4 separate regions of the Homo sapiens genome follow, and all the other regions are linked to region 1. The links come from fine-mapping of genetic effects on gene expression. A gene starts in region 1. Each other region holds a variant in brackets. All regions are shown on one strand. Distances are from middle to middle. Region 1 holds the start of LINC00339 (long intergenic non-protein coding RNA 339). Region 2 has its middle 7.7 kb from the start of CDC42. Region 3 overlaps CDC42 (cell division cycle 42). Region 4 overlaps WNT4 (Wnt family member 4).

Evidence for each region. PIP is the estimated chance that this variant, and not a neighbour inherited with it, causes the effect.
Region 2: its variant is the best candidate, but not a certain one, in a credible set for the expression of LINC00339 in prefrontal cortex (ROSMAP, PIP 0.76).
Region 3: its variant is the best candidate, but not a certain one, in a credible set for the expression of LINC00339 in monocytes after interferon gamma (Fairfax 2014, PIP 0.59).
Region 4: its variant is the best candidate, but not a certain one, in a credible set for the expression of LINC00339 in neutrophils (Naranbhai 2015, PIP 0.51).

The regions. Positions count from the first base shown.
Region 1 is chr1:22,020,710-22,028,773 of GRCh38, reverse strand. It overlaps LINC00339 (long intergenic non-protein coding RNA 339), which reads right to left and starts at 3,583. Exons shown (of 2, transcript NR_023918.2): 1 at 3,402-3,583. It overlaps LINC01635 (long intergenic non-protein coding RNA 1635), which reads left to right and starts at 2,726. Exons shown (of 3, transcript NR_110692.1): 1 at 2,726-2,810; 2 at 3,808-3,968; 3 at 4,329-4,780. RefSeq lists enhancers at 2,604-2,898, 2,976-3,085, 2,697-3,298 and a silencer at 5,735-5,854.
Region 2 is chr1:22,042,272-22,047,793 of GRCh38, reverse strand. No RefSeq gene overlaps it. Among named protein-coding and RNA genes, the nearest start is that of CDC42, 7.7 kb to the left of the region's middle. RefSeq lists an enhancer at 2,492-2,661. The variant C/A (reference allele first, on the strand shown) is at 2,576.
Region 3 is chr1:22,064,728-22,071,827 of GRCh38, reverse strand. The region is part of intron 1 of CDC42 (cell division cycle 42); the gene reads right to left. It also overlaps the pseudogene MPHOSPH6P1. Among named protein-coding and RNA genes, the nearest start is that of CDC42, 16 kb to the right of the region's middle. The variant C/T (reference allele first, on the strand shown) is at 4,341.
Region 4 is chr1:22,111,790-22,119,853 of GRCh38, reverse strand. It overlaps WNT4 (Wnt family member 4), which reads left to right. Exons shown (of 5, transcript NM_030761.5): 5 at 1-2,541. Among named protein-coding and RNA genes, the nearest start is that of WNT4, 27 kb to the left of the region's middle. RefSeq lists a silencer at 552-721 and enhancers at 1,737-1,786, 3,280-3,449. The variant C/A (reference allele first, on the strand shown) is at 2,460.

The sequences.
Region 1 (8,064 bases):
GTAGAGGCTGCAGTGAGCTGTGATCACGCCACTGCACTCCAGCCTGGGCAACAGAGTCCTTGTCTCCAAAAAAAAAAAAAAAAGAACCCAGGTTAAGATCAAGAATGAAGCACCTCTGATCAGTGTATGGGACTTGTCAAAATCCTAATAGAGTACACTTCCAACTCTTTGGATATTTGAGAGCTCCAGGATTATCAAACCAGCTATAGCCGTGGGGGGCGGCGGGGCGGGAGGCAAATTAAATACCTGTAAAATGCCAGAAAAAAAGCCTTTGCTTCATTTGGGCTAGGGCCCCAGTTCAAAAGAGGAGTTATTTACAGGAAAACACATCCTATGTTAATTAACTTTAAAACAAGAGAGTTCAAATAACAGAAATGACTAAATTAATTCTCACATTAGGATACAGCCCCATGATGCAGTCACTTTTCAAGGATCATCATTTTCTTTTTTTTTTTTTTTTTTTTGAGACGGAGTCTTGCTCTGTTGCCCAGGCACAATCTCGGCTCACTGCAACCTCTGCCTCCCAGGTTCAAGCAATCCTCCTGCCTCAGCCTCCTGAGTAGCTGGGACTACGGCACGTGCCACCAGGCCCAGCTAATTTTTTTTTGTATTTTTAGTAGAAATGAGGTTTCACCATGTTAGCCAGGATGGTCTCGATCTCCTGACCTCATGATCCACCGCCCTTGCCTCGGCCTCCCAAAGTGCTGGGATTACAGGTGTGAGCCACCGTGCCCGGCCCATTGTTTTCTTTAATACTCTCTTCCCTCAAAGAACTAATCCCTTCCAGACATATAATACATAGCAGGAGAGCTGACATTTAAAATCCTTCCCACCTCAGAGAATCTCTCAAATCTGTTTCCTGAGCAACAATTGACAGAAGCCAACAATCACTAACGCTGACTAGCTGCCGTGCACCCAGCACCTAGTCATCCCTTCTCTAAAGGTTCCCTGACCCATTTCTTAGGAGACTTTAATTGATTCTAGACCCAGCACCTTGGATATTCTTGGGAGTACACCAATTCTTCTCACATTATCTTGGTTTTTGCTCAGTTAATAAGGTGTGCTCATCCCCCAAAGTAAGCTGTTACTAACCTAGGGTGGTGAATAGGGAAAAGCAGAATCACTTAGGGTGAGTTGGACTAAAATATTTCGTCCAAGAAAGGTTGGGTGAAACACTGTGGGAAAGCAAAATCTTGGGAACAACCTAAGTGACCATCAACAGGGAAATGACTGAAGTACCGTCAACCACTCAGTGGTGCCGCCACGTAAAAAATGAAGCAGGCTTATGAGTACTGGTAAGAAAGCTGTCCATATCACAACATGACTAAGGTCCCGATCGATGTGTAGTATGACCCCCGATCTGAGGAAATTAAAAATACATAAATACAGATACAAATAAATAAAACCTGATATATCCAAATAATAGATAGAAAGTTATCAAAGAAATTAATTGTATTTACTTCTGAAGGGCAGAAACAGTAGAAGGGGGAAACACTTTTCATTTTACATCTTTCTGCATTGTTTTCTAACTACACACATGTATTACTTTTATAACAACTCAAGAGGAAGAAAACTTCTCAGGCTTTCCCCTCCTGCCCAAAAACCTTTCTGAGTGAAAACCCCTAACCCACTTAGGAAAACACCCTTTTATTACTTCTTCTAGCTCCCAGCACCCAACGTCTTTACAACCCAGGTTTCTAGGAACAGACTGTCAGTGGGCCTTTTTCTTTCCTTTTTTTTTTTTTTGAGACAAGTCTCACTCTGTCGCTCAGGCTGGAGTGCAGTAGTGTGATCTCGGTTCACTGCAACCTTTCCTCCTTCTGGGTTCAAGCAATTCTCTGCCTCAGCCTCCCGAGTAACTGGGATTACAGGTGCCCACCACCATACCTGGCTAATTTTTATGTTTTTAGTAGAGATGGGGTTTCACCATGTTGACCAGGCTGGTCTCGAACTCCTGACTTCGGGTGATCCACCCGCTTCGGCCTCCCAAAGTGCTGGGATTACAGATGTGAGCCACCACGCCCAGCAGTCAGTGGGCCAATTCTTAAGGCTGGCTCTCAAAGATGAACCAGCACCACAATTTACCCGGCTTATAAATCCTGTCAGCTTCAGAAGACGACTTACCAAACACAAATTTATCCTCACCAGTTAATAACTCCTTTTCTTTGCTCAAAAACCCAGTGAGAAAAAATAACTCCAGGCCAGGCACAGTGGCTCATGCCTATACTTCTAGCACTTTGGAAGGCCGAGGCGGGTGGATCACCTGAGATCAGGAGTTCAAGACCAGGCTGGCCAACATGGTGAAACCGTCTCTATTAAAAATGCAAAACATTAGCCAGGCGTGGTGATGTGCGACTGTAATCCCAGTTACTCGAGTGGCTGAGGCAGGAGAATCGCTTGAACCCATGTGGCAGAGAAGGTTGCAGTGAGGCGACAACGCGGCACTGCAACTCCGGCCTGGGCGACAGAGCGAGACTCCGTCTCAAAAAAAAAAAAAAGAAAAAATAACTCCAGTGCACTGCGCCCTTACTTCCTATCTAACATTGTGCCGAACGTTATACACAGATCCTCCTCCGTATGATCCTTAGTTCAGGATCATAAACTCTTGATAAATTACTGCCCCAGGAACCTCCAGTGACATCAACCGCTGCTACCATTTGTGGAATTCTGCCGGCCAGACACCCCACACTGCATTCCCTCACAACTGATCCTCCCGATAGCCCATGGGGTAGGCACTGTTATTTCCATTCACAGATAAGCAAAGTGAGGCTCGGAGGGCGGGGACTTGCCCAAAGCCACAAGGATGAAAGGTAGTGCGATGACTCAACCGATAAAAATAATCCCGGTTGTGGTGGGGGGGAGCTGAGCCCGACTCCTCCCACTATGCTGCCGCGGCTCCGAAGGCCTAGCCCGAGTGCGGAAATGGGCTTCTAGGGTCCCAGGACGAGGTCCACCTCCAGAGCTGCAGTGAGGTCCAAGTCAGCCCGAGGAGCCCGCAGGTCCCACATTTCAGTCATTTCCCTACCCCAAAGGCAGGGACTCCCCGCTCCTGGGGCAGGCAGCCACTGTGGCCGCGAGCAAGCGTACTCGGGTTAGGAAGGAGAAGGAAGGGGACAGGGGGAACGTTCACCTACGCAGCTGCCACCTCGGAGGACGGGGGAGCGGGGGACGAGGAAAGATCAGGATAAGACCCTAACTCCCACAAATGACTCCAGGAAAGGGAGACCACCACTCCCCGAGCTTTGGAGCGCCGCGCGGGAACCGGAAGTCATGCCCCGCCCGGAAGTTAAGAGGAGGGGCATAGGTTGGAAGGGGTGGGCCGGGTCTCTCTAGCCTCCGCGGTACTACGCAGCTTCATGGTTTTAACTCTTGGTGGTCTTTTGACCGTCCTCAGTCCTTACCGTGCGGAGTTTTGGATACATTCTTAGCAGCTTTTTCGCTCCGGAGAAGTTCTTTATCTTTCTGAGCCGCAGTTTGCCCAACTGCAAAATGGAAAGAGATGAAGCAGGAATTAAGATACTCTAGGAGCTCGCCCACAGCTGATTCAGGGCCCCATTCTGAGGTTACACCCTTAAGCCTTTGCACCACTCAAAGGAAGGAAACCAAGAGAGAGGGGTGGCTGGCTGCTGTTTGGAGACAGTGGTCCTTGTATTGGCGCCCCGCGGAATCACTCCAGATGAGTCAGTGGATACAGTCTATAGGTCCCGCCTCATTGTACGCAAACAGCAGTGGGCATATGGCCGTGGGGGGTTGATACAGCCTGTCCGGGGTGGGACTCTGTGTGTATGGGAGGCTAAATCTCAGCAGGACTTTTCCAGTTGCTACCAGACTACGCACTGTCGCCTGATGGTTAAGAACTGAAGCTTTAGCCGTGCGCGGTGGCTCACGCCTGTAATCCCAGCACTTTAGGAGGCAGAGGCGTGTGGATCACCTGAGGTCACGAGTTCGAGACCAGCTTGACCAACAAGGTGAAACTCAGTCTTTACTAAAAATACAAAAATTAGCCGGGCGTGCTGGCAGGCGCCTATAGTCCCAGCTGCTCGGGAGACTGAGACAGGAGAATTGCTTGAACCCGGGAGGCGGAGGTTGCAGTGAGCCGAGATTGCGCCATTGCACTCCAGCCCGGACGAGGGAGCAAGACTCCATCTCAAAGATGAAGCTTTGAAGTCATACTGATCTGGTTTGCGTCTGATCACACAGGTTCAATGACACAGCCGGCTAGAGGAAGCAGAGATGCTAACCACTGCAGCCCCGATCTTAACCCTGAAGGGGAGGGATTGAGCTGTTAGAGAGAGGTACTCAGTTGACTTCTCCCTCTCTCTTTCCAGCTGGCATATCCGAATGGGCTGAGCTACCGGATTAAGAGGGACACCCCAAAGCCCCCATTGCTGGGTTATTGCTCCAGAGCCAATGTTCTTGGGGAAAGGAAGATATGCCCTTTGTCAACATTGCCACTGCTGGTCTGTAAACTCCTAGACGGCCAGCTGGTGGTTCACAAACCAGGACTCCTTGCTCTGGCCCTACCCCTACCTACCAGAATGACCGTGAACCCTTCCCCACTCACTCCTACAACCAGGTTTCCATCTCCTCTCTCAGCTTAGGTTTCCCTAACTGTAAAATAAAAGGGTTGGACTAGGTTAAGGACTTCCTGCTATTTCTCTCTCCCACACTCTAAGGTTCCTTAGGAATGCTTCAGAAAACAGCAGGGGTTGGGGCAAGGATGCCGCTTGAGTCCCAGAGCAACTCCAATTTCATAGGCACATAAATTTATGTGAAAGTATATACGTTTCGGCTTGTGTAAGATTATTTTATCATCCCAGGTAAAATTCAGCCTTTGTGCTTCATCTTTCCCCACCCTCCTGCTCACTCAGTTTGCTCCAAGAACACTGACCTTCTGGCTATTTTGCAAATCTGACAATCTGACAAGCTCATCTTCACTTCTTTTTTTTTTTTTTTTTTTTTTTTGAGACGGAGTTTCGCTCTTGTTGTCTAAGCTGGAGTGCAATGGTGTGATCTCGACTCACTGCAACCTCTGCCTCCCGGATTCAAGCGATTCTCCTGCCTCAGCCTCCCGAGTAACTGGGATTACAGGCACGAGCCACCACACCCGGCTAATTTTTTGTACTTTTAGTAGAGACGGGGTTTCGCCATATTGGCCAGGCTGGTCTCGAACTCCTGACCTCAGGTGATCCGCCCACCTCAGCCTCCCAAAGTGCTGGGATTACAGGTGTGAGCCACCACGCCCAGCCTTTTTTTGAGGCAGAGTCTCATTCTGTCACCCAGGCTGGAATGCAGTGGCATGATCTCAGCTCACTGCAACTTCCACCTCCTGGGTTGAAGTGATTCTCTTGCCTTAGCCTCCCAAGTAGTTCAGATTACAGACTTGCACCACCCTGTCCAGCTAATTTTTGTATTTTTAGTAGAGACAGGGTTTTGCCATGTTCCCCAGGCTGGTCTCGAACTCCTGACCTCAAGCGATCCACCCACCTCGGCTTCCCAAAGTGCTGGGATTACAGGCGTGAGCCATCGCACCCGGCCTCATCTTCACTTCTTTTGCTGATCTCTGCTTGCAGTGCTCTTTCCTGAGATCTGTTCACCCAGGTTCCAGTTCAACTGTAGCGTCTCCTTTTCTGCCCACCTCCTCTATCCCCCGACCCCGGGCACCCTTCCAATTCCTTTATAACCTGTTACTTTGTTTTTGTGATTACCTAGTTATTTTCTATCTCATCCACTAGAGGCAGTGTCCACAAAGCTAAGGACTTTGTCTGCCCTGTCACCACCATGACCCCAGTACTTAAAACTGAGCATAGGCCGGGCACGGTGGCTCACACCTGTAATCCCAGCACTTTGGCAGGCCGAGATGGGCGGATCACAAGGTCAGGAGATCGAGACCATCCTGGCTAACACGGTGAAACTTCATCTCTACCAAAAATACAAAAAAATTAGACGGGCGTGGTGGCGAGTGCCTGTAGTCCCAGCTACTCGGGAGGCTGAGACAGGAGAATGGCGTGAACCCGGGAGGCGGAGTTTGCAGTGAGCTGAGGTCACGCCACTGCACTCCAGCCTGGGCGACAGAGCAAGACTCTGTCTCAAAAAAAAAAAAAAAAACAAAAAAACAAAAACTGAGCATAGGAGCCAGGCGCAGTGGCTCACGCCTATAATCCCAGCACTTTGGGAGGCCGAGGCAGGCGGATCACCTGAGGTCAGGAGTTCGAGACCAGCCTGGCTAACATGGTGAAACCCCGTCTCTACTACAAATACAAAAATTAGCTAGGCATGGTGGCAGGCGCCTGTAATCCCAGCTACTCAGGAGGCTGAGGCAGGAGAATTGCTTGAACCTGGGAGGCGGAGGTTGCAGTGAGCTGAGATCACGCCATTGCACTCCAGCCTGGGCGACAAGAGTGAAACTCCATCTCAAAAAAAACGAACAACAACAACAAACTGAGCATAGGCTGGACAAACACTGAATGAATGGATCAATGAGTGAGTAAAGGAACAGAGCAGCTGGGCGTGGTGGCTCACACCTGTAATCCCAACACTTTTGGAGGCTGAAGCAGGAGGATCCCTTGAGCCCAGGAGTTTGAGACCAACCAAGGCAACATAGTGAGACCCATCTCTACAGAAATTTTTTAAAAATCAGCCTGGTGTGGTGGTGCACATCTGTGGTCCCAGCTACTTGGGAGGCTGAAGTGGGAGGATCACTTTAGCCCAGTAGATTGAGGCTGCAGTGAACTGTGATTGAGCCACTGCACTCCAGCCTGGGCGGATAGAACAAAACTCAGTCTCAAAAAAAAAAAAAAAAAAGGTCTGGGCATGGTGGCTTACGCCTGTAATCCCAGTACTTTGGAAGGCTGAGGCGGGTGGATCACCTGAGGTCAGGAGTTCAAGACCAGCCTAAGCAACATGGTGAAAACCCATCTCTACTAAGAATAGAAAATTAGCTGGGTGTGGTGGTGCATGCCTGTGACCCCAGCCACTTGGGAGGCTGAAGCAGAAGAATTGCTTGAACCGGGGAGGCAGAGATTGCAGTGAGCCAAGATTGTACCACTGCACTCCAGCCTGGGCAACAGAGTGAGACTCCATCTCAAAAGCAAAAAAAGAAAAGAGAAAGCCTGAATTTTATGACAAATCCAATCTGAAAAAGACCACTAGGGATGTAGCTGTAGTTTAACAAAATTAGGCTTATTAACTTGATGTAGCAAGAGAGACAACACACCAGAGAAACTGTGGAGGGTCTCACCAAACAAAAGAAGAAATGGGATTATCATAGGATTTGGAGGAGGTTGGAGTTTAGGTGAAATTGAAATGAAGCCGTGTTGATAGGTGCAAAGCAAAGCTGGCAATGTGTAAAGGGGTTAACATCTGGCGTGGGCTGAGAATCAGACTCAGAGTCTTGTTTCCTTGGACACCACAAAGGTAAGACAAATATAGACTATTGTGTCCAAAAACCCTTTATCTGAAGCTCTGCATCTGGGTAGATACAGGCTATGTCTCTGTATCAAACCTGGCTCTTCTGACCCACTAGAGAAGCGTGGGATGTTCTGCTCTCACTGATGTGATTTCAAACAGCAAAGTTTCTGACAGTCTCTGATTTTAGAGAATGAGATTCCTTTTTTTTTTTTTTTTTTTTTTTTTTTTAGGTGGAGTTTCACTCTTGTCGCCCAGGCTGGAGTGCAATGGTGCGATCTCGGCTTACTGCAACCTCCGTCTTCTGGGTTCAAGCAATTATCCTGCCTCAGCCTCCTGAGTAGCTGGGATTACAGGTGCCCGCCACCACACCCAGCAAATTTTTGTATTTTAGTAGAGATGAGGTTTCACCATGTTGGCCAGGCAGAGAACAAGATTTCTCAGCACTGTCTTTTTTTTTTTTTTTCTTTGAGACAGTCTCGCTCTTTGGCCCAGGCTGGAGTGCAGTGGCGTGATTTTGACTCACTGCAACCTCTACCTTCCTAGTTCAAGCAATTCTCCTGCCTCAGCCTCCAGAGTAGCAGGGATTACAGGCATCCACCACCACGCCCAGCTAATTCAGCCTCCCAAAGTGCTGGGATAGCACTACGTCTTTGA
Region 2 (5,522 bases), 20 kb before region 1:
AGGCATGGTGGCTCATGCCTATAATCCCAACACTTTGGGAGGCTGAAGCGGGAGGATCACTTGAACCCAGGAGTTTGAGACCAGGCTGGGCAACATACTGAGACCTCATCTCTACAAGAAATATAAAAACCGTGTGGTGGCAAGCACCTGTAGTCCCAGCTACTTGGGGAGGCTGAGATGTGAGGGTCGCTTGAGCCTGCGATGTTGAGGCTGCAGTGAGCCATGATCATGCCAGTGCACTACACTGCACTCCAGCCTGGGTGACAAAGCAAGACCCTGTCTCAAAAAAATAAATAAAAAGAATCTCAGCTGGGTGCGGTGGCTCACGCCTCTAATCCCAGCACTTTGGGAGGCCAAGGCGGGAGGATCACGAGGTCAGGAGATCAAGACCATTGTGGCCAACATGGTGAAACCCTGTCTCTACTAAAATACAAAAAATTAGCTGGGTATAGTGGCGCTCACCTGTAGTCCTAGCTACTCAGGAGGCTGAGGCAGGGGAATCGCTTGAACCCGGAAGGCGGAGGTTTCAGTGAGCAGAGATCGCACCACTGCACTCCAGCCTGGCCACAGAGCAAGACTCCGTCTCAAAAAAAAAAAAAAAAAAAAAGAATCTCTACTTTAACTCATTTGACAAAGCACAGCATTTATCTTCCTATATCATCGCTCTGATTAGGTCACTCCCTTACTCAGAAACCTTCAGTGTTTTCTCCTTTGTCTTCAGAATAAAATTTAAGACCTTTGGTTGGGTACAGTGACTCAGACCTGTAATCCCAGCACTTTGGGAGGCCGAGGTGGGCAGATCATGAGGTCAGGAGTTTGAAACCAGCTTGACCAACATGGTGAAACCCCATCTCTACTAAAAATACAAAAATTGGCTGGGTATGTTGGTGCATGCATGTAATCCCAGCTACTCAGGAGGCTGAGGCAGGAGAATCGCTTCAATCTAGGAGGTGGAGGTTGCAGTGCCTGGGTGACAGAGAGAGACTCCATCTCAAAAAAAAAAAAAAAAATTTAAGACTTTACCCAGACATTCTATGTCCTCTATGATCTTTGCCTTTCCAAAGTGATTTCCCTTTCTTTTTGTATTAGTCATAGTTCTCCAGAGAAACAGAACCAATAGAATGGTAATATATATTATTTATATATTACATATAAAACCATTCTGGCCATGTGCAGTGCCTCACACCTGTAATCCCAGCACTCTGGGAGGCCAAGGCGGGTGGAACACTTGAGGTCAGGAGTTCGAGACCAGCCTGGCCAACATGGTGAAACCTCATATCTACTAAAAATACAAAATTAGCTGTGTGTAGTGATGCGTGCTTGTAATCTCAGCTACTTGGGAGGCTGAGGCAGGAGAATCATTTGAGCCCAGGAGGTGGAGGTTGCAGTGAGCCGAGATCGAACAACTGCACTCCAGCCTGGGCGACAGAGGGAGACTCCATCTCGAAATAATAATAAAAATAAAACCATTCTCTATATAGAGAGTGGTTATATATACATATAGAATGGTCTATATATAATATATAAATTATATATTATATAATCATACATAATATATAAATTATATATAATAATCTCTATATATAAAATATACATATATATATATAGAGAGAAAGATTTATTATAAGAGATTTATTATAATTGGCTCACTCACACGACTATGGAGGACAAGTCCCAAGATACACAGGGTGAGTCACTGAGCTGGAGACCCAGGAGAGCCAATGGTGTAGCTCCAGTCCAAGCCTGAAGGCCTGAGAACCAGGAGAGCTGATGTTTCAGTTCCAGTCCAAAGGCCAGCAGGCTCAAGACAGAGGAAGAGCCAGTGTTTCTCTTTGAAGTCTGAAGGCAAGAAAAATTCTCCCTCAGTCAAGGGAGGGTCAGCCTTTTTGTTTTATGTTGGCCTTCAACTGATTGGATGAGAGGGCAATTTGTTTTGCTCAGTCTCCTGATTCAGATCTTAATCTCATCCAGAAACAAGTTTGCAGTCACACCGAAAATAATGTTTGACCAAATATCTGGGCACCCCATGGCCCAGTCAAGTTGACATATAAAATTAATCATCACACCTTCCACTACACACCTATGCTACAGCTAGACTGTATAATACTTAGTATCATACAGGCAGGAACCATGACTTCTCACCTCTCTGCCACTGCTCATGCTGATCCTCTTCCCTAAAACACCTTTCCTGCTTATCCATCCTACATGTCAAGTCCACTCTTCTTCCCACCATGAACTGTACATTTTGCCAACATCCACCTTGTGTCCTTTCCCACCTCTGTGCCTCTGTGGATTCAGTGGCTCCCTTCTCTGTCTGCCAAACTCCACTCTTCTCTCCTTCAAGGACTGGCCTAGGCCTTAGTTTTGAAATCTCCCGACAACCCCAGGCAACCAATCAGTCTTATATCACTTTGTATTTAAAGCATCTCATATTGGAATTATTTGTATCTATTTATGCTAAACTATTAGGCCATAAGCAGGCAGAGATCTTATTCATTTTATTTTTTTTTACCTAATTTCCTGGCACACTGCCATCCCTCAAAAATGTTTGATAAATGATGCATGAATGCATACA[C/A]CACCACCTCTTACACAAAGCCAGCTCTGCTTCCCACTGCCAAAAGGGATTGCTGGCTCTTCTAAACCCCCAGAGCCCTTATCAGAGCCCCTCTCCAGGCCCTCTGTCTGGGCTATCATGTTTACCCACACTTTTTCCACCCTACTGCAAGCTCCCAGGGGCAAGCTTGGTTTTGGATGCATTGCTGTGCCCCTCACAGTCCTCTTCAGATCCCTAGAACACTTTGGCTGAATGAGAGAAGCCTCATACTGCATTCTCTGCCAAATGCAAGACTGCAAATCCACCACCATCTCCCCAAGGGCCTGCCAAGATTTACTAAAGAAGAAGAAGATCTACATTAAAGAGGCTCTCCTCCAAGGTCTTCAGGCTTGGGATTTGTGTGAGAAAATTCTAATTTAAGACTTTCTGTGTGATTCATAGGCAAAAACTGCGAAGAAAACCAAGGAAGTGATTATCATACAAATTCAGCTAGTGGCCGCCTCTAAAGGGGGTTAGAATCTGGAAGGGATGGGGGTACTGGGGGGGCAGTGTTGGCAGTGTTCTATTTCATGACCTGGGTGATGATTACATGGATGTTTGCCTTATCATTATTTATTCTATGGTACATGTTTTATTTGCTTTTCGTATGTGTAATAGTTCATTAAAAAATAAAAGGCCAGGTGCAGTGGTTCATGCCTGTAATCCTAGCACTCTGGGCGGCTGAGGCAGGTGGATCACTTGAGGTCAGGAGTTCAAGACCAGCCTGGCCAACAGGGCCCGTCTCTACTAAAAATACAAAAATTAGCCAGGCATGGTGATGCATGCCTGTAGTCCCAGCTACTTGAAAGGCTGAGGCAGGAGAATGGCTTGAACCCGGGAGGCGGAGGTCGCAGTGAGCCAAGATGGTGTCATTGCACTCCAGCCTGGGTGACAGAGCAAGACTCTGTCTCGAAATAAATAAATAAATAAATAAATAATAAAAGTTAGGGCCAGACACAGTGGCTCAAGGCTGTAATCCTAGCACTTTGGGAGGCTGAGGCGGGCAGATCACTTGAGGTCAGGAGTTCAAGCCTGGCCAACATGGTGAAATCCCATTTCTACTAAAAATACAAAAACTAGCAGGTGTGGTGGTGGGTGCCTGTAATCCCAGCTACTTGGGAGGCTGAGGCAGGAGAATCACTTGAACCCAGGAGATGGAGGTTGCAGTGAGAGGAGATCATGCCACTGCACTCCAGCCTGGGCAACAGAGTGAGACTCTGTCTCAAAAAAAAAAAAGTTAAAGCCTAGGCAACATAGCAAGACCCTCGTCTCTACAAAAAAAATACAAAAATTAGCCGGGAATGGTGGTGTGCGTCTGTAGTGCTAATTACTCAGGAGGTGGGAGGATCATTTGAGCCAGGAGTTCAAGGCTGCAGTGAGCCAAGATCACACCACTGCACTTGAGCCTGGGCAACAGAGTGAGACCACCGTCTCAAAAAAATAAATAAAAATTAATTAAAGTTGAAAATAAATATATTAAAGTATCTCTGTTGTTGCCAAAAGGTTGATGTGTTGTATAATTCATATCACTGAGACCGCAGCCCACCCCTCTTTCCTGATTCCCCTGGCTGGTCATGGCCCAGACCTCTCCAGGAGCCCCCCAACCCTACTGCCAGGACTCCAGCCGTGTTCCTGGTTTACCTGCTGCACCACAAGGGGTTACAGCTGCTGGGGCTGCCTCCACTAAGGGATCTGCTCCCTCTGCAGCCCCTCCAGCTGTTCAGCCTCCCTCCTCCACTTATGCCCACATCATTATGCTTGTCTAGGGACCTGAACCCTTCCTGGAGGCAGAGAAAGGGGAGGAACTCACCAAACCTGTTTCCTTCTTGCCTTTTCTCTAACTGGCCCAGGCTTGCCTCCTTCATCTTGCTTACACATCTCTGGCAAAGATAATCTGGGTCACTGAACAAGGGTGGATGAGAAAGGATAGGGGAAAGAGTAAAGTCCAGAAATAACTGAGCAACTCTGTCCCCATCGTGTAGGCCCTTGTCCATCTCTCCAATCTCATCAGGACCACGTACTCACTCACTGGGCTCCGGCCATGCCGCCCTGGTTGCTGTTCCTCGGACACACTGAATTTATTCTGCCTAGCTCAGAGGCTTTGCTCTTGCTGTTCCCCCTGGTTATCTGTACACACCTGCTCCCTTCCACCCCACAGGAATTTGCTCCAATACCACCTCTTCAAGAAGACCTCTTCCTTCTCAGCTTAACTAGCACCCCCCACCTGCTATCACACGCAGCTTTGCTTCCCTCATAGTGCTTATCTCTATCTGAAATGGTCTCAGTTCTGTATTTTTCTTACTGTCTCCTCCCATTAAAGCCAAGTAAAACCCAGTAAATCCAAGGACTTGCTTCATCACTGTACCCTCAGTGCTAGAATATAGTGCATACTCAATAGAAATCTGTTAAAGAAATACAATAGGCGGGGCGCAGTGGCTCACTCCTGTAATTCTAGCACTTTGGGAGGCCTAGGCTGGCAGATCACAAGGTCAGGAGATCGAGACCATCCTGGCTAACACAGTGAAACCCCGTCTCTACTAAAAATACAAAAAAATTAGCAGGGCGTGGCAGCGTGCGCCTGTAGTCCCAGCTGCTGTGGAGGCTGAGACAGGAGAATGGCGTGAACCCAGGAGGCGGAGCTTGCAGTGAGCCGAGATCGCACCACTGCACTCCAGCCTGGGCGACAGAGCAAGACTCCGTCTCAAAAAAAAAAAAAAAAAAAGAAATACAATAAGACCATAAGACCAATCCCTACTCAAGGAATTAAGGACTCCCAGTGGGACAAACAATAATTAAAACGAGGCTGGGTGGGTGCGCTGGCTCACACCTGTGATCTCAGCACTTTGGGAGGCTGAGGCAGGCAGATCACCTGAGGTAAGGGGTTCGAGACCACCCTGGCCAACATAGTGAAACACCGTCTCTCCTAAAA
Region 3 (7,100 bases), 44 kb before region 1:
CACTAAAAGTAAAGTTGCCTTCATGTGAAATACGTTTGCCCCTGAAGTAACCCATTTTCATACTTAGGATACAAGAAAGAAGAGGCACTACAGGAATCAAGAGAATGACCCAATTTCACAATCTTCCTTATCAGTTCAACAGAAGGACTAGTCTGGTTGTAGGATTAAACAGAATAAAATCAAAACTACTTGTCTCTCCTGTCAAATCCAGCCACTTTGGAAAATGCAGCTTATATAACCTTCTGCTGTAAGTTATAGTAGCATATCTAACGTACAATTTTTTAAACACCTACCCATGCATGTGATTTTTAGGCAACCAAAAGTACTCAAACCACAGCAATGTATTCCATGCATTCACACACGTATGCAAGTGTGCTAACAAACTGTCTTGTTTGCAGAACTTCTTGTTTGCTTCTATATCACAGAAGACATGTAACAAAAAGCATACAGCTGGCCTTATATGTTTGTTAGAAATGCTTGTTCCGACCGGGTGCGGTGGCTCACACCTGTAATCCCAGCACTTTGGGAGGCCGAGGCGGATGGATCACGAGGTCAGGAGATCGAGACCATCCTGGCTAACATGGTGAAACCCCGACGCTACTAAAAATACAAAAAAATTAGCCGGGCGTGGTGGCAGGCGCCTGTAGTCCCAGCTACTCGGGAGGCTGAGGCAGGAGAATGGCGTGAACCCGTGAGGCAGAGCTTGCAGTGAGCCGAGACCGCGCCACTGCACTCCAGCCTGGGCAACAGAGCGAGACTCCATCTCAAAAAAAAAAAAAAAGAAAGAAAAAAAAAGAAATGCTTGTTCCTCAGTGCCGTAAAGAAATAGCACTTGAACATAAATTTAATTTTCTCAGCAAGGCCATTTATACCTTCTGCAGAAAGGATACACTTGCCAGCAGTTTTGCCACAAAAGTACACCGAGCAAAGGAGACAGGGTCATTTATAACCTGACGTGTCTATCCTACTGCTGTGTCCGGTTTTTATTGGCTGGAACGGGACCTCACGTTTTGTATTTGTCCTGATAGGCTAGCAACTTACAACTTTTAAAAAGAGGCAAAGAAGGCCAGGCGTGGTGGCTCACGCCTGTAATCCCAGCATTTTGGAAGGCCGAGGCAGGCGGATCACGAGGTCAAGAGATCAAGACCAGCCTGGCTAACACAGTGAAACCCTGCCTCTGTTAAAAATACAAAAAAATCAGCTGGGCGTGGTGGTGGACGCCTGTAGTCCCAGCTACCTGGGAGGCTGAGGCAGGAGAATGGCATGAACCTAGGAGGCGGAGCTTGTAGTGAGCCAAGATCATGCCACTGCACTCCAGCCTGAGCAACAGAGCGAGACTCTGTCTCAAAAAAAAAAAAAAAAAAAAAAAAAAAAAAAAAAAAAAGAGGCAAAGGCAGAGGACAACAAAGGAAGGAGGAAGTAACTTGTGGAATGCTGAGAAAGGTAAAAATACCTTTAAACAGGCTATGACCTAATGCTTGCTTGGACCAGTATAAGCATGCCAGGGCAAATATTTAGGCTAAATTGTGGGAGCTAAGAACATAAAGTACACTGATTTATTTATTACAGCTAGCAGATATTTAAGAATGTTAGCAAAGGTCTTTGAATAAATTTTGCTTTTAAGAGAAGTTACTATTTATTTCTGATTAGATGTGGGGGAAGTCTTTGAAGAGGAATCTCTACTTTACTTTTTACATGTTCAATTAAGAATACAACATTGCTTAGAAAATCCTACCCAGAGGCTGGGCACAGTGGCTCAAGCCTACAATCCCAGCACTTTGAGAAGCCAAGGAAGGTGGATTGCTTGAGGCCAGGAGTTTGAGAACAACCTAGGCAACGTGGCAAAACTGCGTCTCTACCAAAAATACAAAAATTAGCTGGGCATGGTGGCATGCGCCTGTGGTCCCAGCTACTTGGGAGGCTGAAGATCATCCGAGCCCAGGAGACGGAGGTTGCAAGTAAGCCAAGATTATGCCACTGCACTCCAGCCTGGGCAACACAGGGAGATGCTATCTCAAAACAACAACAACAAAAACAAACAAACAAAAAAACCTCTACCAAGGCTGGGTGTGGCGGCTCACGCCTGTAATCCCAACACTTTGGGAGGCCAAGGCAGGAGGATCACTTGAGCCCAGCAAATCAAGACCAGCTTGGGCAACATGACAAAATCCCATCTCTACAAAAAATTAAAAAAAAAAAAAAAAAAAAAAAAAAGTGGTGGCATGTGCCTGTAGTCCCAACTACTGGGGAGGCTGAGGGGAGAAACCACCTGAGCCAGGAAGGTCAAGGCTACAGTGAGCTGTAGTCACACCACTGCACTCCAGCCTGGGTAAGAGAACAAGACCCTGTTTCGGCCAAGCGTGGTGGCTCACGCCTATAATCCCAGCACTTTGGGAAGCTGAGGCGGGCAGATCACTTGAGGTCAGGAGTTCGAGACCAATCTGGCCAACATGGTGAAACCCAGTCTCTACCAAAAATACAAAAATTTGCCAGGTGTGATGGCGCTCACCTGTAGTCCCAGCTATTTGGGAGGGTGAGGCAGGAGAATTGCTTGAACCCAGGAGGCAGAGGTTGCAATGAGCCGTGATTGTGCCACTGCACTCCAGCCTGGGGACAGAGTGAGATTCTGTCTCAAAAAAAAAAAAAAAAAAAAAAAAGGAATAAAATGGAGATTACAATAAGATGTTTTCCTCAAAATACTCAAGACTTGTAGATCTACTCATTCATCTACTCATTCATTCAACAAGCCTTTACTAAGTACCTACCACGTGCCAAGCTTTGTCCTATACGTAGGCACACCCCACAATTCACATAACAAAGTTCACGCCCTCTTGGAGCAACAATTCCAGTGGGGTACACAGACAATAAACAAGCATCACCCCCTACATATTCTTCCTTCAATAATACTACCAACTGACATCCTTACATGTAACTTTCTCATTCTAGTCTCTTAACTAAGAAACAGCAGGTGGCCAGAACACAGCACAAGCTGAAGCCAGCATGGCACCTGAGCACAAGACCAAGTTCTCCAAGAACCTGCTGTACATGAAGTTCATGCAAAGAAGACTGGACTCAGAAACTAAGAAATGACTAGAAGAGGAAGAAAATAAAATTAGTTAAGAGCACTGGTACTCAGATTTGCCAGAGCTTAATAAGTAAAGAATTTCATAACAGAAGAGCAGCATCTCTTGTTATGTGAAGATCATTTCTATGGAAGGAATTTCATTCATCAGATTTACTCCTGAGGTTGAGAAATTAGTGCTTCAGGTGAATACTAAGAACAAAGCAGAAATTGAAGATGAAACAGTGGAATTTTACGTGTCAGATGAAGAAGAAATGGCTAGAAGAAATGGCTAGAATATGAGACCTTGGTGGGGACAACAGGAAAAAAGTCTGCCAAAAAGGGAGATCAAGCCAATTATGAAGACAATGAAAATGGAGACCTACAACTAATTAAAGCAAAGAAAATGTTCTTAAAGCCCCGGGATCAAAATACAGAACTTAAGAGATGGCTCAGAGATGCCTTGTGAAAGTTAGCAGCATGTTTTGTAACTAGTTCTGATGGTGCCTCTATAGTTATTAATACTATAACGTTTATTTGTAAAGAGATGTATAATTTTGGAAACATGCTGTTTTTGAAACAGATGTGTAATGGATGTCATACATCCTCTGCTAAATGGTACTGAGTGGATTTTTAGCCCTTGATCTTCAAATATACAGGTTTCCTAAAGATTTTTTTTGTTTTTGAGACAGGGTCTCACCCTGTCACCTAGGCCAGAGTGGAGTGGCTCAATCACAGCTCACTGCAGCGTCAACCTTCCTGGGCTCAAGGGATCCTCCCATCTCAGCCAAATCTTGGGTGTCTGGCCTTACAACTCACCCTATTTTCAAGCTACCCTTCCACTACAAAACCTCTCCTTCTCTGAGACCTTTCCTAACTAGTCTAGGTATTGAAACTGCCCCAACCGCCTGACCACCTGCTATGTTTGTGTCCCAAAATTCATAAGCTGACACCTGATCACCAGTGTGACGTTGTTAGAAGGTGAGACTGCTGGGAGGTGATTAGGTCCAGAGGGCAGAGTCCCCTCATCCCCAAATGGGATTAGTGGCCTTATAAGACACCCCAGAGAGCTCCCCTACCCCTTGCACCATGCAAGAAGACACAGCAAAAAGGAACAAACTGGTATGGGCGCAGTGGCTCAGGCCTGTAAACCCAGCACATTGAGAGGCCGAGGCAGGCGGATCATCTGAGGTCAGGCGTTCGAGACCAGCCTGGCCAACTTGGTGAAACCCTGTCTCCACTAAAAATACAAAAATTAGCCGGTGGCGCATGCCTGTAA[C/T]CCCAGCTACTCAGGAGGATCGCTTGCTTGGGAGGTAGAGGTTGCAGTGAGCTGAGAGCACCAAAGCGAACTTGGGAGGCGGAGGTGGGAGTGAGCTAAGATCACCACTGCACTCCAGCCTGGGAAACAGAGTGAGACCGTCAAAAAAAGAAAAAGAAGAAAAGAAAAAACCAGCATCTATGAACCACAAAGCAGGCCCTCACCAAACATCAAATACGCCAGCACCCCAATATTGTCCTTCCCAGGATGCAGAACTGTGATAAGTTTCTGTCGTTTACAAGCTACCCAGTCTATGGTATTGTTAAAGAAGCCTAAACGGACTAAACAGAACCCATGGCAAGGCCCTTCTTCTTGCCTTCTCAAACCTTCTCATGCTCCGTTCCCCTGTACTCTCCATGCTCTAGCTACACAGGTCTCTTACCTCCCCAGACGTGCCAGGCTCTGTCCTGCCTTCAGGTCTTTTTTGGCCCAATCTCTGCTCACCACAACCTCCGCCTCCCAGGTTCAAGCGATTTTCCAGCCTCAACTTCCTGAGTAGCTGGAATTACAGGCATGTGCCACCACACCCGGCTAATTTTGTATTTTTAGTAGAGACGGGGTTTCTCCATGTTGGTCAAGCTGGTCTCAAACTCCCAACCTCAGGTGATCCGCCCACCTCGGCCTCCCAAAGTTCTGGAATTACAGGTGTGAGCCACTGCACCCGGCCATGCCTTGAAGTCTTTACCAACAACACTCCTGCCCCTGCTCTTAAAGCTTTTGGCTTCTCACTCTCCAGATCTCAGCTCGAATCATCATCTCCTCCAAAAGTCCTCCCCTGACCACATTATCCAGGGCAATAGTACCCTCCCTCCTTACACTCCTTTCATATTACCTTATTTCCTTTATTGTAAGGTCATAATCTATAATTATCTTGTTTATCTGTCATATGGCAGTAGAAACAGACTTTTAAAAATAAGGAAATCTCCATAAAGGTAATAACTGCTGTATGCCCACAAAATAGCTCAATACCAGTCACACAGGACACACTCACCGAATAAATGAATCACAGGAGTAATTAACCATGTTATTTTTAGTCACATATGCTTACTTTATTCTAATAGATTTTTTTTTTTGGAGACAGGGTATCACTCTGTCACCTAAGCTGCAGCACAGTGGCGCAATTTCAGCTTACTGCAACGTCTGCCTCCCACGCTCAAGCGATTCTCCTGCCTCAGCCTCCCAAGTAGCTGAGACTACAAGCATGCACCACCTCACCTCACCCAGCCCCTCTAATAGATTTTAAGCTCTCTGAGAGAACAACTAGGCTTATACTTCTTTATTCCCCGTCCCAATGCAGCCAATACAATACTGAACAGTATATTAAGGGCAAGAAAAAATAAAATTCTTAAATGTCTTTTACAACTTTGTTGACTAAAGTAGTAATATGAAAAAAACGCCCAGGCACAGAGGCCTGTAATCCCAACACTTTGGGAGGCCAAGGTGGGTCAATTATTTGAGGTCAGCAGCTCAAGACAAGCCTAGCCAACATGGTGAAATCCCGTCTCTGCTAAAACTACAAAAAATTAGCCAGGCATGGTGGCGCACACCTGTAATCCCAGCTACTCGGGAGGCTGAGGCTTGAGAATCGCTTGAACCCGGGAGGAGGTTGCAGTGAGCTGAGATCATGCCACTGCACTCCAGCCTGGTTGACAGAGACTCTGACCCCTCCCCCGCCCCCCAAAAAAAGACGAGATTTTTAAAGACAAGCAAATATGGGTTCCAATCTTAGCTCCACCTCAATGTGTACGATCCTGGCAAGTTACTTCACTTCTATGCCTTAACTTTCTCGTCTACAAATTGACATCTAATTCACAAGACCACTACAGAGAAATGAGGTAATGTATATAAAGCAACTGGTACACACACCACCTAGCAGAGAGTAAATACCTAATATGGCACCTTATTCTTACGCAAAATTAAAATCTGCAGAAACAGCCCTAAAAAGGTCAGAACAGTTGTTAAGTAAAAGCATCTAAATATCATGAATAAGAGGGAACTCAGAAAAATCCTTGCTTCTCCTAGGGAGGGTTATTTGCTAATTTTATCAATCCTTTCAGAAATCCCTTCATTCCAATCTCAAAGAGCAATTTAATTTAATAAGTGTCACATTTGTAGCCAAGAGATTCAAAATATTACAGAAAGGGCTGTAAACCACCTCGCCCTATTTTAAGAGACGAAATAACCTAATCACACAGCAAGTATTTCTCAAGTCTCTAACATGCCCAAGGAAGACGACAGAGTTGCAGTAAAGGGCATATGCTTTCAATCAAGCAGCCCTAAAGCTCAGATTCCCATTCTTGTGTGATTTTGGGCAAGCTACTTAAAACTCTTTTAAGCCTCGTTTCCTTTGTAAAACAGAGACAATAGTATCACCATCACAGGTTGTCAGTCACTCTGCAAAGAGCACTTAACACTCAACTATGAACTCTTACTATCAACGTGAAATAATCCAAATATGCAGGCAATTTAGCGGTGGCTCACGCCTGTAATCCCAGAATGCACGCCTGTAATCCCAGAATGCCGAGGTGGGTGGATCACCTGAGGTCAAGTTCGAGACCAGCCTGACCAACATGGTGAAACCCTGTCTCTACTAAAAATATGAAAATTAGCCAAGCGTGGTGGCAAGTGCCTTTAATCCCAGCTACTCAGGAGGCTGAAGCCAGAGAATTGCTTGAACCCCGGAGGCAGAGGTTGCAGTGAGATTGCGCCACTGCACTCCAG
Region 4 (8,064 bases), 91 kb before region 1:
GGGCCTTTGTGGCTGCCACTGACCAAAGGGACCTTGCTCGTGCCGCTGGCTGCCCGCATGTGGCTGCCACTGACCACTCAGTTGTTATCTGTGTCCGTTTTTCTACTTGCAGACCTAAGGTGGAGTAACAAGGAGTATTACCACCACATGGCTACTGACCGTGTCATCGGGGAAGAGGGGGCCTTATGGCAGGGAAAATAGGTACCGACTTGATGGAAGTCACACCCTCTGGAAAAAAGAACTCTTAACTCTCCAGCACACATACACATGGACTCCTGGCAGCTTGAGCCTAGAAGCCATGTCTCTCAAATGCCCTGAGAAAGGGAACAAGCAGATACCAGGTCAAGGGCACCAGGTTCATTTCAGCCCTTACATGGACAGCTAGAGGTTCGATATCTGTGGGTCCTTCCAGGCAAGAAGAGGGAGATGAGAGCAAGAGACGACTGAAGTCCCACCCTAGAACCCAGCCTGCCCCAGCCTGCCCCTGGGAAGAGGAAACTTAACCACTCCCCAGACCCACCTAGGCAGGCATATAGGCTGCCATCCTGGACCAGGGATCCCGGCTGTGCCTTTGCAGTCATGCCCGAGTCACCTTTCACAGCGCTGTTCCTCCATGAAACTGAAACACACACACACACACACACACACACACACACACACACACACGGACACACACACACACCTGCGAGAGAGAGGGAGGAAAGGGCTGTGCCTTTGCAGTCATGCCCCTGAGTCACCTTTCACAGCACTGTTCCTCCATGAAACTGAAAAAGGAAAACACACACACACACACCTGCGAGAGGGAGGGAGGAAAGGGCTGTGCAATAAAGTCCTCTCCCATTATCTTACTCAACACAATTTATTGAGCAAATACTACGTGTTCTAGGCCCTGTACAGGCCATCTCACTTGATGGCCACAACAGTCCTGGGAAGCAGACAAACCAAGAATGCTAATGCCCATCTGACATCAGAGACGGCAGTGCTCCCCAGACCTCTCACAGCAAGCTGGATGGACAGGCAGGGCCAGAAGAGTCCTCCAGCCAAGCCTCCTCCTTGGTTCTTGTACCCAAAGGTAGAGAAACTGCAGGTCTTCTTGGGTCTGAGCCTGGGGCAGGGGTTCTGGCTGGACGAAAAGGGGCAGGGAAGCAGCAGGAGCCAGAGACCACAGGCTGAGCTGGAGCCCACATGGTTCCTAAGGGCAGAACAGGCTCTGAGGAAAGATGTGAACAGCTGGAAGGCTGACAGTGAGGTCTCAGCAGTGTGGTGCACCCCTCCCCAGCACATCCGAGTCCCTGGGGTCCCAGGTACCATAGGTACTGCAAGATTTCCCAAGAGACAGCACCAGCAACCTGGGCCTGACCCTGTACAACCGCCAAACCATCACGAGCCCCGCCCAGGCTTGTGAGAAGGACATGCATGGATCAAGACCTTGCCCTTGACCCATCTGCTTCTCAGATGGGCTCCCAATCACCAGAGGAAGTTGCTGTAAGCCCACTTTCCAGACTGCCCCCACACTGGGGCTCTAAGTTTCAGGTCGGAGATTTTATGCTCTGTGATCCCCCACTTGGGGTTCCCAGACTCCAAGCTCCTGGCTCCTGTGTTCAGTGGCTGAATTCAACGTCCGAGATTCGGAATATGGGCTCCAGCCTGCAGAAACTCTTCTCCAGGCATTGTGGTTTGTGCCTCCTAGTGTTGGCTCCCTCATGAAAAGAGGGTCAACACCCTTGGCCCCCAGCCAAGATCTCTGCTCAATGTCCATACAAGGAGGAAGCCAAAACCAAGTGAGGTGCTGGAGCCACATTCAAATGTGGTTGATAATCTTGGGGCAGGCCAGCTCTGATGTGGATGAAAGCTGATCCAACTGTCGCCACAGCTGCCCAGCTGGGTCCGCTGCTCCCCTGGCTGGCTGTTCAGCTGTCTACTAAGCCCAAAAAAAATACTATGCCTCACTAGCAGAGGCTAGACCCAGAAAGAGGGAACAATGAGGACCCCTCCCCTCCCAGAGGAAAGAGCTGAGCCACTCTCCCCATCCAGGGAACAGTAGGTCCAGGCTGGATGCTGGTATGATGGGAACTGCCCTTTTCACCTGCCAGGGAGTTCCTAAAGCTGATCTTCCTGGGGTTCTGAAGGTTGCGACCTAGGTTAATGAGACCAAATTCTAGGAACCACTGCCCAGGCCAACCACCGCCAGTGCTGCAGAGATCAAAGAAATCCACAGCCACAGGAAAAGGAGCTTCTTTGGACATGCCCAGCTCCAAACTGTCCCAGGGGGAACTGGCACAGCCCTTACATAGCCCACCCCCTCTTGGCCTCACCGTGGCCTGGAAATTGGCCAGAGGGTCCACATCCTGCCCAAACCACTCTCCTCTCGTCCCAAGGCAAAGGTGATGCCCTGAGGCCTAGGGCTGGATAAAGCCCAGCTCTGGATGCTGCTAACCCACTCTGCTGCCCCACCCCAT[C/A]CTCCAATTTTTATACTAGGCTCTTTGCCATTGTGACGTCCCATGACATAGTCTGATGCACGATAAAACAATTATTTCTTTATCTTGCAATTGTGACAGTGACTTTTTTTATAGAATAGGGAGAAGAGACTTGGAGAAGGTCATGGGAATAGCAGACAAATAGTAGCAAATTCTATATATAGGGGCCCCTTTGCCTTCTTAATAGGTGGTTTGAGGGCCACAAGGACCCACCTGCATGCTTTCTGAAACTTCACTGTTAACACACAAAGGCTTCTTCGTGTGCATTTCACTGGGTCATGACCAGCTACTTAAACCTTGGCCTAGTCAGATCTTTCAAGAGTATTGATGAGGGCCTGGTTGAGTAGAGGGCCTGGTAAACTGGGTACTGACATGGGAGGTAGGGGATGAGGGAAAAGGACTTAGTTTCTGTCCTGAGACATGGGAATCCAAGGACTATGGCTCACAGGTAAACTCCAGGATTAGAATCCAATTAGAATAAGGAGTCTGGGTGGAAAACTTCAAGTAACTCAAGTCTAAAGCCACAGCCAAGGGAACTCGTTGCTGATGGGAGATCCAGGGTGGCTTCTCAGGAACCTCCATTCTAACTAAGTGAAGTCCTTATTCTTACCAAGGTAGGCCATGGCCTATCCCCCACCCCCGCTGCAGCAAACTCACAGCAGCCGGGGAGTGGGTAGGCTGCTCTGTGCTCAGCTTTCCAAAGGCTTAGCAGGGTAAAGGGCTAAAGAAAAGTGCTTTCAGGACAGCAGGGGTGCTTATGAATTTGTGAAGAATCGGGGGCAGGGGCATAATAGACAAAGGGAGGTCCCGGACACGGTATAGAGTATGGGTGGACAAAAAAGGACACCTCATCCTCAGAAAGGCAGGGAGAGGGGATAGAGGGTACCAGAGCAGCAAATAAGTCAAGGTTAGCAACATAGTGAAACTCCACCTCTACAAAAAATTCAAAAATTAACCTAGCACAGTGGCACACACCTGTAGTTTCAGCTACTCAGGAGGGTGAGGAGTGGGGATCACTTGAGCCTTGGGGACAGAAGTTGCAGTGAACTGAGACTGCATCACTGCACTCCAGCCTAGGCAACAGGGCAAGACCCTGTCTCAAAACAAAACCAAACCAAGAAGTCAAGGTGACCATGCTGAACCATTTTCTAGCACTATGCAAAGGTCCCAGGCTTTGAAATCAGATAGACCTGGTTTGGATCCCAGCACTGCCACTTCTTCACTAGATAAAACCTTGGACAATTCATTGTCCTCTCCCAGACTCATTTCTTCATCTGTAAAATGGGCCTGTCCCACCCCCTTAAACACATACTTCAATGGGGCTAGATAATAATAGAATCTATTTATTGGGGGTGTTAAATAAGAGAACATTGGTAAAGTTCAACAACTCTTCTAGAAAACTGCTGGCTCCTTTGCCCAAATGCCCTCACCTCAGTTGCTGCCCTGAGCTCCCTCAGCATCTTCTCTAATTCTCCCTCTTCTCCTTGTGTCTACCCTCCCAGACAACTCTCACTGGAAATATTACTATTCCCTTTTCAGGAACCTAGGAGGCAGTTAAGGTCATGGCAGTTGAGGTCATTGTAAGTTGAAGAGAGCAGGAGGGGGGATGAAACGAGGAGTGGCTCAATCCCTCTAATTCACATGGAACAAGTTGAGGGCTGAGGCAGGTGCTGCAAGACTTTGACCCTACCCAGAGCTCAGAAGCAGGCAGATCTTTACCCAAAGTAGAAAACCCCAATAGGAGAGCAGAGAATCCCAGAGGCCAGGAGACCCAGGCAGCAGCCAACAAGGTTATAGCAAAGCTGTCCCTGGGCACCAGCTGGAGGGGCTGATTGAGATCCCAATGTCTGGGAAAAGCAGGGCAAGGCCAGAGAGCAGGGCCAAGTCGGAAGTGCAGACAGGAGTGCCAGAGCTGCAGGAAAAGGTGTAGTGGGCCCCAAGCGCTCTGCCTGTGGGGACGGAAGTAAGACTTTCAGGCTCCCAGGCTGGGTCCGCTTGCAGAGAGCCTGTGTCCAGGCTCTATCCTCGTAGCTGCCCTCAGAGCTTGGGCCTGAAGTTCTCTAGGAGAGCCGTGAAAATGCAGTGACAAAGTAGACCTCCTTCTCAGCCTCTTCCTGAGAACAACCAGTCCATGGGAAGTCTGGGGAGCAGTAAAGGCCAAGCAAAGGCCAGAGAACACAGGAAAACAGGACAGAAGGGAAGTCTAGGAACTAGACAACTGCGGGAGACTAAGAAAGGCTAGACACAGAGTGACGAAAAGGCAGAGAGGGAGGACAGACATGAGGAAGACAGGGAGAAAGAGACAAGAAGAGAGAAGATGCTGTGGGAGCTCAGAGCAGCGACTGAGGTGAGGGTGTCTGGGCAAAGGAGCCCAGCAGCTTCCTAGTAAGAGGAAAAAAGTGCTGAGCTTCAGGAGAAAGTGTCTGATTCAGAAGGGGAGCTGGAGAGGCGGTCTTAAGGCATGTGGGGGAGGGGTGTGTGGAACACAGCCTGGCCTGGCCCAGTCGATGACTTCATAAGCATCTCCCCCGATTCCTTCCTGAGCCGCCAGTCCTGGTGACCCCCTGCCCACATCTCAAGGGTCTAGGCCAAGCAGGCGCTGACAGGGGAGAGAAGGGGCCCTTCTGGGCCAGGCCCCCAAGCCTGGCACAGTGCCTGCTGCGGGAGGAGGGGACTGGAGGCCCAGCCCTTGTCAGCATCCCGGCCGGCACTTCGGAGGCAATTAGCAGCCCAGCTGAGCTAATCCCCCGCCTGGCGAGGCCAACACAAACAGGCCTAGACCGGGTGCACACTCACCTCCCTGTTTGCTGAGGGGCTCGGTGGTCCGCCAAGAACAACACCAATAACCCAGGGCCTTCTCTAGGTTAAGAGGAGGACCGGGGCCTGCTGAAGAGCTGACAGTGCCCGACAGAGCACACTCTGGCCAGGTGCCCTGGCTGCCCCAAAAAGGCAGCCACTGTTCCCAAGCCTTGGGCCAGTCGGGAAGAGGAAGTTGGACACAAGGAGCCATGTATTCCAATTCAGCACACACCCCACCTCCTCGTGCCACCTGTGAGGAAGAAGGCCCCATGCAAGCTTGTGCCACCTTGGCCAGTCCAACAACTGAGACCAGCAAGGGCTGGGCCCTCTGGTCAGGGCCCAAGGATTACAGGCTCAATGCTGGACAGGGAAAGGCCAGAGGCAACTCAGACCTGGCCCCTGCCCTCAAGGAGCTCAGTCAAGCCAGAGAACAGATTGTGTGTATGACCTTGGAGCAGTGCCAGTCTCTAGCCCCACCAGCACCCCAAGACTTGGGAAGGCTAAGGTAGAACCCTCAAAACAAAGAAGGGAAAGGGGGACCCAGGAGAAGGAACTGAGGCCCAGAAACTGATCACTGTGAAAGATGGTGCAAAAGCCAGTGGAAAGGACCCAGGACAGGTTTTGTCAGACTGGTCCTGGACCAGGCAGTGGCTCCTCTGGGCTTAATTAGCTCAATTCGGCAGCCACTGGGAGAACCCAGACCCCAGGCATGGCGCTTCTCATGTAGCCCCGCTTCTTTTAATTTTTGAGGCAAAGTCTCCCTCTGTCACCCAGGCTAGAGTACAGTGGCACAATAATGGCTCACCGCAATCTCTGCCTCGTGGGTTCAGGCAATTCTCCTGCCTCAGCCTCCCAAGCGGCTGGGATTCCCGGCGCCTGCCACCACACCCAGCTAATTTTTGTATTTTAGTAGAGACAGGGTTTCACCATGTTGGTCAGGCCGGTCTCGAACTCCTGACCTCAAGTAATCCACCCGCCTCAGCCTTCCAAAGTGCTGGGATTACAGGCGTGAGCCACCGCACCCAGCCTAGCCCCCCTTCTTGATTCCAGACCAACTCCACCTTCATCAGCTCTGATCCCCCTTTTGAGCCAAAGCCTCCATCCTCAATTTGGTTCCTCACCTACCCAAGGACTCCCTTTTTTTCTTAAGTCCTCACAGGCCTCCTGCCAGATATAAGGGTCAACAATGGACTTTGTAGCGACATCAGGAACAGTTGCCTCCTTGAAGCTTCTACTTGAGAAAGCAACAGACATGGCCTCCCTGAGAGAGTGATGCAGGACACTACTAATTATCAATACTCAACACCACACCATTTACTGAGCAACTCACTGACCGTGGGTCAGGCCTGCACTAAAGCACCATTTACTAGCATTATCCCATGTCACGTTCATAGGCAAGCAAGTGAACACAAACATTTCCTGTCAGATAAACCAACCAAGAGGCAGGTGTAGGCTTCATCGCTATTTTACGGGTGAGACTGAGACCTACAGAAGGGAAGAGACTTGCCCAAGGCCGGAACCTAAGGCTTCAGCCTGCTGGTCAGGATGGAATATGTTATCAGAGCCCCTCCTCAGTCCCACAGACCCTCCACTTCCCTCACTCCACTACTGGCGTAGACCTACCCTTGGTGCTTCCTGGCCAGAGGGCTTCAGAGCCTTGAGCCTACCCCTCCTCCCCATACAGGAGCATGAAATCTGTCTCTGGCTGGGCTAAGCTGAACTCTGTCACTCTGCTGGAGAATTACACATCGCTCTACAGTTTTCTCTTTAAGGCAGGGGATGAGGAAGCCTGGAGTCACATTGCTAGAGCTGACAAAGCCATAGCTGGAAACAGCAGCCCTCCCCCCACCCCTTTCCCTGGCTGGCGTGGCAGAAGAACTTCAGGCCCAGCTCCAGGCCTGTCAGATTGGCTGTCAGGTGCCTGCCTGCAGCAGGAAGGGGCTGACAATCCAGTCCAAACCCCTTTTGGGCTGCTCCCACACCTGGCTCTAGAGCATCTCGCCTGAACCAAGGTATAGATGAGTTGACGAGTCCTTTTCCCTTCAGTTCAGCCAAACAGGGAGGTATTTTTCAAAAACATCTTTTACTAGGAAATTGAAAGAAAACAAACAGATCGTAAGTACACAGAAACAAGCAGATTCCTAAGCAGGACTTTAACCAGCACCTAACCAGAGCTCTATAGATGCTTGCTTCTCCCTTCTTTCCTCATGAAGCCTCTTTCTAGGCATCAGAAGACCTGGGGTCTCATTCCTCATTGCTGGCAGCCTGAGGAATCTGAAGCAAGTTCATAAACCTCTCAACCTCATCTGTAAAGTAGAGATGAAGATACCGCAGGGCCAGGACTGGACCCAGTTCTAATTCTAAAGCCTCCACTCTACACAGGCTTCCTGACCTCACACTTCCACCATTACGGTTGCTGGAGGCCCAAGTGAAACACTGTATGGAGAAGTGCTATATGGACTGGGAAGGGCTATCAGGGATGCTGACGGTAGTCACTGGCCAGAACACTGGCTCTTTCCTTAAGAGTGAGGGAAGTATATACTGGGCATGTGGAGAATGGCATTCCAAGCTCCTGGTCTCATCAGGTTTAGGTGACACTAGAATTTGCTTGCTGGATCTCTCTTCTCCCATCTCTCCTCCTCCTTCCTTCCAGCACCTCCTGCAACCTGGGCCTCCTCCCCCATCCCCTTCTTGGACAGCAGCTAGAGCCACCTGGGAAGCTTCAAGAATGGCTGATGGTTATCGCAGCCAGGACAGGGCGAGCTGCTGCCCCTCTGATTCATCATAG